Homo sapiens: one gene and its partner. The protein of the gene in region 1 purifies or fractionates together with the protein of each later gene. This does not show direct contact. Each region holds a gene or a part of one and is shown on either strand. Other genes may lie near its edges.

Region 1 (3,918 bases):
TAGCTAAGGGATTGTAAATACACCAATCAGTACTCTGTGTCTAGCTCAAAGTTTGTAAACACACCAATCAGCACCCTGTATCTAGCTCACGGTTTGTAAATACACCAATCAGCACTCTGTATCTAGCTCAAAGTTTGTAAACACACCAATCAGCACCCTGTATCTAGCTCAAGGTTTGCAAATGCACCAATCAGTGCTCTGTGTCTAGCTGATCTCACGGGGACTTGGAGAACTTTTGTGTCTAGCTCAGGGATTGTAAACGCACCAATCAGCACCCTGTCAAAACGGACCAATCAGCTCTCTGTAAAACAGACCAATTGGCTCTCTGTAAAATGGACCAATCAGCAGGATGTGGGTGGTGCCAGATAAGAGAATAAAAGCAGGCTGCCCAAGCCAGCAGTGGCAACATGCTCCAGTCCCCTTCCACAATGTGGAAGCTTTGTTCTTTCACCCTTTAAAATAAATCTTGCTGCTACTCACTCTTTGGGTCCAGGCTGCTTTTATGAGCTGCAACACTCACTGCAAAGGTCTGTAGCTTCTCTCCTGAGGCCAGCAAGACCACGAACCCACCAGGAGGAATGAACAAGTCCAGATGCGCCGCCTTCAGAGCGATAACACTCACCGCGAAGGTCTGCAGCTTCACTCCTGAAGCCAGTGAGACCACGAACCCACCAGAAGGAAGAAACTCTCAACACATCTGAACTTCAGAAGGAACAAACTCCAGACACACTGCTTTTAAGAACTGTAACACTCACCGTGAGGGTCTGAGGTTTAGTTCTTGAAGTCAGTGAGACCAAGAACCCACCAACTGCGGACACACCAGCATTTAAGAAAGACAAATTACTTGACTCTTTCCATGGCGGAAAAAAAAAAAGACAGTTTAAACCTCATTGTAATTACAACAGATACTTTTAAAAATTCTCTCTGGGCCGGACGCAGTGGCTCACGCCTGTAATCCCAGCACTTTGGGAGGCCGAGGCGGGCAGATCACCTGAGGTCAGGAGTTCGAGACCAACCTGGCCAACATGGTGAAACCCCATCTTTACTAAAACTACAAAAATTAACCAGGTGTGGTGGTTTGCACCTATAAATCCCAGCTACTCGGGAGGCTGATGCATGAGAATTGCTTGAACCCTGGAGGCAGAGGTTGCAGCGAGCCAAGATCATACCACTGCACTCCAGCCTGGGCAACAGAGTGAGACTACCTACAAAAAAAAAAAGAAAAATTCTCTCTGATACAATAGCAAACTGTTACCGTCTTCAGAGTGTAACTTCTCTGGGTTTTTGTTTTATTTTTTTGAAACAGGGTCTTCCTTTGACATCCAGGCTGGAGAGCAGTGGTGTGATCCCAGCTCACTACAGCCTCAAACTCCTGGGTTCAAGCAATGCTCCTCCCTCAGCCTCCCGAGTACCTGAGACCACAGGCATGCACTGCCATGCTTGGCCAATTTTTAAATTTAGTAGAGACAGAGTCTCGTCATGTTGCCCAGGCTGGTCTCAGACTCCTGGATTTAAGCAATCTCTTGCCTCAGCCTCTCGAAGTGCTGGGTTTACAGACATGAGCCACCATGCCTGGCCACTTTTCTCTTTTTATAGGTATGTTTTGAATAATTCATTAAAAAGTTGAGACAGGACCAGGCACAGTGGCTCATGCCTATAATCCAGGAGTTCAAGACCGGCCTGGGCAATATAGGGAGACCCCCATCTCTAGTAAACAATTAAAAACTTAAGCCGGGGAGCCGGGCACAGTGGCTCATGCATATAATCCCAGCACTTTGGGAGGCCAAGGCGGGCAGATTGCCTGAGGTCAGGAGTTCGAGACCAGCCTGGCCAGCATGGTGAAACCCGATCTCTACTAAAAATACAAAACTTAGCCAGGTATGTTGGCAGGCACCTGTAATCCCAGCTATTTGGGAAGCTGAGGCAGAAGAATCACTTGAACCCGGGAGGTGGAGGTTGCAGTGAGCCGAGATCGCGCCATTGGACTCCAGCCTAGGCAACAGGGCAAAACTCTATCTCAAAAAAAAAAAAAAAAAAAAAAAGCCTGGGCTGGGCAACACAGCAAAACCCCATCTCCACCAAAAAAAAAAAAAAATTAGCTGGGCGAGGAGGCACATGCCTGTGGTCCTAACTACTCAGGAGGCTGAGGTGGGAGGATTGCCTGAGCCCAGGAGATGGAGGCTGTCGTGAGCTGTGGCTACACCACAGCACTCCAGCCTGGGCAACAGACTCTATCTCAAACAAAAAAGAAAGTTCAGACAGGAAAAAAGAGTGGTACTTTAACTAGACTAGATAAGGGGAAACTTTTCCAAGTCAGGATCTGACTGATGTTTTCATTCTTTCCCTTTTTATATCCCTGCCTTCCATCTGCTGAAATAGCAAATAATAATTCATTCACAATTTATCATGTATCAGACACTGTGCTATGAGCTTTATATAGATGATTTCACTTAATCTTTGAAACAATGCTATGTGATTGGTATTATCATCCCTGTTTAAAGATGAATGTGGGCTGGGCACACTGGCTCACACCTGTAATCTCAGCATTTTGGAAGGCCAAGGCAGGTGGATCACCTGAGGTCAGGAGTTCTTGACCAGCCTGAACAACATGGTGAAACCCCGTCTCTACTCAAAATATAAAAATTAGCCAGGTGTGGTGGTGCGCCTAAAATCCCAGCTACTCAGGAGGCTGAGACAGGAGAATCGCTTGAACCCAGGAGGCAGAGGTTGCAGTGAGCCAAGATTGTGCCACTGTACTCATTCCAGCCTGGCCAACAGAGTGAGACTCCATCTCAAAATAAAAAACAAACTTTTAAGATGACTTCAGCTCCAGCCACCATCTGAGTGCATGAGAGACTTCCAGTAAGACCTGCCTAGTTGAATCCAGGCAACCTGAAGAACCACAAGAAGGACTGTTGTTCCTTTAAGCCACAAAATTGAAGTGATCTGTTACGCAGCAATAGATAACCGGAACAATGAAGAAAAGCAGTATAAGAAAAAGTAACATGCCTGAAGCTGCCATGCCCACCCGGTTCCAAAGCCCACGCTCTTATCAACTGCACTGTGTCACTCTTTGCTCTCTACTGTTGCAAACGATGCCAAATAAAAAGAAGGACAGGAATACTCCACAGAATAACACACCCCTAAACACAGGGCATCACCTAGAAAACAAGTACAAAAATATACCTAGAAAATCCTGACAGACCCCTGTAATAATCTAGCATTCCCAGCCCCACTCTGACCCCAAGCTATGGATCCAATTTCACCATTACTCACTTTTCCTGATCATTCTACTTCTATAACTCTGTCTCTGTGATTTCCAGTTCTGGAATATTCTCTCCATTGTTAACTATTTTTAAATCATTTATTTAATGATCAGGATGTAAACCAGGGGGATAAAAGGTTACAATAATTCTTAGAGTACATTTTAAGGTAGAAGGAAGAAAGGGAGAATAAAGATGTCACCACTAAACCAAGTAACCGAAAACTACCAAAATGACCATCTAAAAGAACATACCAAACAATACTAAATATACTTTAAAAACAAAAGTTTACAAGAAGTAAATCATAAATGTACATTTTTTGTGTATTTTGTTTTGTTTTGATTTTTTTTTTCTTGTATTTTTTGGTTGAGATGGGGTTTCACCACATTGGCCAGGCTGGTCTCGAACTCCTGACCTCAAGTGATCAGCCAACCTCGGCGTCCCGAAGTGCTGGGATTACAGGCGTGAGCCACTGCACCCGCCCCATAAATGTAAATTTTATATGTATACACACATATACTTTTTTTTTTTTTTTTGCTCTGTTGCCCAGGCTGGAGTGCAGTAGTGCGATCTCAGCTCACTGCAACGCCCCCCTCCCAGGTTCAAGCGATTCCCCTGCCTCAGCCTCCCAAGTAGCTGGGATTACAGGCACCTG
Region 2 (3,918 bases), on another chromosome or scaffold:
CTTGTACCACAGTGCACAGTGTGGTCGATTTTAAAGTCCTGACTCTTAATTTGGAATGGCCTGTAAAAACGAAACAGTGGTCCTGGTTATGTGGCTTTTGTATGAAATTTTATTTGCTAAGTATTCTATTGTATATTGAGGTAAGTAAACAGTAAATTGAAATATCTAAAATTGGAAACTGCGGAAGTCCCAACACGAAGCCAGTCAAATATTTAAAATTGTACACTGTTGCCTATGTTGCCTATCATATTGAAACTTAAAACTTAGCTGGTTTTTCTTCATATTTTTACCATGAGTATTTTTATTAGTAGTAGCAGTAGGACTTTCCATTGTATTGGCATGTCTTTCCTCCATAGAAGATAAATTTCCGGTTATTAACTACTGAATGTAATTTATATGCACATGTAGAAGTTTGAGATATACTAGGAAATGTTGCTTACTTTTGAGGTTGGCTGTTTTTATGAACCAGGGACATTGTAGTTTGAATTTGTGGGTGATATTTTTATCTGTTCTTCTCTAGGGAAGGCGATTTCAAGCAAGAAGGTATGCCACAGATAACCATGACTGAGGTGGCAATGTAATTAGGCAGTGTAATGGAAAGTATAATAAAACCAAATCATTTAGCCTTCAATTGTAGTAAAGAGGTGCAAATTAGTTCTAATAAAAAATGTCTTTAACAAAATGTGAATACGTGACTAAGATGGGAAAGTAGGTAGCAGTAATATAAATATGGAACAATGTTGACTACTAATTGGAATAGTAAAGGGAGCCATTTTACCAAATAAAATTAAAATGTAAGATTCTGCAGTCAGAAACAAAACTTTAAAAACTCCGAACAGTGGTTACCTCTGACAGCATATGGACTGGGAAGGGGCAAAAGGAATGCTTTTTGCATCTCAGCATAGTGAGACCTTGTCTCTACAAACAATAAAGCAGCCAGGAGAATCACCTGAACCTGGCAGGTGGAGGTTGTAGTGAGCTGAGATCGTGCCACTGCATTCCTGCCTGGGCGACAGAGTGAGACTCTGTCTCAAAAAAAAAAAAAAAAAAGCCAGGCATGCTGGTGCAAGTCTGTAGTTCCAGCTACTTGGGAGGCTGAGGCAGGAGGATCACTTGAGCCCAGGAGTTCAAGGCTGCAGAGAGCCATGATCTTGTCACTATATTTCAGCCTGGGCAACAGAGCGAAAACTGGTCTTAAAAAACAAAACAAAACAAAACTTTTTTTAAAGGTTTATTGCTGTTTTGTTTTTCAGCAAAACCAAAAGCTAGTCAGGCTGACGTAGCATTTGACACCTTTTATAAACCTACAGTTTATACTTCTTCCTTCTGTGAAACAATTTGTGGTTTGTTGATTGAGATAGTGAATTTTAACAAATACTTTGTAATGTGCCCTTGCTGTGTTGAGATGAATTCATATAAAATATAACCTTACACCATAAGTTTTTTTAAAAAATCAATGTACTGTTCTCTCTAATATAAAAGAAAAATAAAAGGGAAGTAATTTATAATAAAATTTATTTCAGTATTTAATGATGTGGCACAACTATGCCATAAAGCATAAGATCAAGTGTTTGCATCTATCTGTAAATAGAATCATCGTGTAATTTAGAAAGTATGTCTGCTGCCTATACAGTTGTGTGCATTGTTGACTCATGTTGTGTTGCCATTAGTGGTGTAATTTCTTCCTGAAATTGCAGACAACTCTTAGGAAAGCTCTAAACAAAGAATAATCAATACTTTCTGAGTTGGAAAAGATTTTTTAAAGTCACTTAGTAGTCCAAGCACTCATCTTATTGAATCAAGATATATTCCCTGTTTATCATAATTTCAAAGATCCTTACTTCTGTTGTGTGAATATTATTGCACATGTGATCAGTAGAGTGGGAAGTGTTACTGGGACTCCTAATTTTTTCTTCCAGGTATTGCTTATGGCTTTCAGCTGTGTGATATCTGAAGCGATACTCTTTCTCAATTATTCAAATGATTGGCCTTCATCTTTTTTTAAATGCAGCCTGCAGTAACCAATAGAATACCAGTAGTAACCAGTAGACACATTCTTCCCATCGTGAACGTGAGAGCTATATTTAAGTCTATTCAATGCCTAACTTAATGGCACAATTTTATTGTTCTGTCTAGTACAGTCGTGACTAGCTACAGTTGGCGATTGAGCAGTTGAAATGTACCTTGTGGTCTGTGGCACAGTTGCCATTTCCCGGGTAAGATGTCTGCAGTCTGTGTACTGAGGACCTGGAGCAGGAATGCTGGGCAGCTGATTTGTTTCACTGTTTTCCAACATGTAGTAATGTTCATGTTTTGAAGCCAAATTATGTGTGTTTCTTTGATTATCCTTCATTCAAGTATAGTCATCCACATAACTTTCTGAAAACAATTAATGCTGTATGTGGACAGCTTGTTCAGTTCAGATTCTCAGACACTGAAGAAGGGATTAGAAAAGTAACTGTTAATGTTATGTAAAAGAAGGAGATACAGTGTCTCAGTTTGATAACATCGGTAAAGTTCAAAGTGATAAAGCTTCTGTTACCATCGCTAGTCCTTATGATGGAGTCATTGAAAACTCTAGCATAGTCTAGATGATATTGCCTATGTGGGGAAGCCATTAGTAAACATAGAAACAGAAGCTTTAAAGGGTACTGTTAATTTGTTTTACCAAATTGATTATTGTCCACCTTTTGTCATTGGGTCTCAATTAAAAGTGACCTTTAAAAAAAAAAAAAGAAAAAATGTGCCTTGTATGACAGAACTAAATTTTAAATTTTAAAGTGTGAAAGCTCGGATTCTCAGCTGGGTACTGTGGCTCACACTCGTAATCCCGACACTTTGGGAAGCCAAAGCAGGAGGATCACTTGAGCCCAGGAGTTCAAGACCAGCCTGGGCTATAACATAGTGAGACCTCATCTCTACAAAAAAATAGTAATCATAATTAGCTGGGGTATGGTGGTGTGTGCCTGTAGTCCCAGCTACTTGGGAAGTCAAGTTGGGAAAATCACTTGAGCTTAGGAGGTTGAAGCTGCACTGCATCGAGGCATGATAATGTCACTGCACTCTAGCCTGGGTGACAGAGGGAGACCCTGTCTCAAAAAGAAAAAACTCACAGTTATTGGTCCGTTTTTATGTTTGAAACAACTTAGATATGTGGATCTACTGCAGATTTTGTGAAATGTAAATACAGATCAAATATTTCTAAGGAAAATGAGTAGTTGAATTGGGCCATGCTGTAAGTGTAGTAAACTGGATTTTAAAGACTTGGAATAAAAAAAATTTTTAAGGTAAAATAAGTTTTATTTTGACTACATGTTGAAATGATTTCTTCCCCTTGTAAATGTGGATGCTAAACTTGAATGAAAAAAAACTTCTAAGGGAAAATAAGTTTTATTTTGACTACATGTTTAAATGATTTCTCCCTCTTGTAAATGTGGATACTAAACTTGAATGAAAAAGTTTTTAAGGTAAAATAAGTTTTATTTTGATTACATGTTGAAATGATTTCTTCCCCTTGTAAATGTGAATACTAAACTTTTTTTTGTTATATCAAGGAAGTCTTCCCAAGATATTAAACATTTTAAAATTTTGTATGTCACTTGTATATCTGTTGGACGGTCCTGTGCTAAACCCATAAAAAAGCCAAAGTTGTATAAAACAGGATCTTTTCCCTTAGAATCTACTTCCCATCCCAGATGGTAGATATTTCTAAATGTTTCAACTTGTGGGCCAACAGAAAGTTTATGGCTGTTTATACCTCTGTGTTGAAGGATTTTGAGGCGAATCTGGTTTTTTGGTTAAAGTGTTGCCATTCAGTCACTTGGTCTGCTGTGAAAGGGTAGGGAAGAGATAATTGGAAGTATTCATCTTTCTTGAGCTAGTGCAAGCTATATTCTGCCTCTGTCAGAAACTTGTTCT

Evidence for each region.
Region 2: the proteins of MOK (region 1) and NAA50 purify together in Homo sapiens (affinity purification with mass spectrometry; 3 studies listed by BioGRID and IntAct, with this or other methods). This does not show direct contact.

The regions. Positions count from the first base shown.
Region 1 is NC_000014.9:102,298,305-102,302,222, forward strand, and holds part of MOK (MAPK/MAK/MRK overlapping kinase), read right to left. Parts: intron 1-3,918. UniProt on the Homo sapiens protein: Able to phosphorylate several exogenous substrates and to undergo autophosphorylation. Negatively regulates cilium length in a cAMP and mTORC1 signaling-dependent manner.
Region 2 is NC_000003.12:113,739,558-113,743,475, reverse strand, and holds part of NAA50 (N-alpha-acetyltransferase 50), read left to right. Parts: intron 1-3,918. UniProt on the Homo sapiens protein: N-alpha-acetyltransferase that acetylates the N-terminus of proteins that retain their initiating methionine. Has a broad substrate specificity: able to acetylate the initiator methionine of most peptides, except for those with a proline in second position.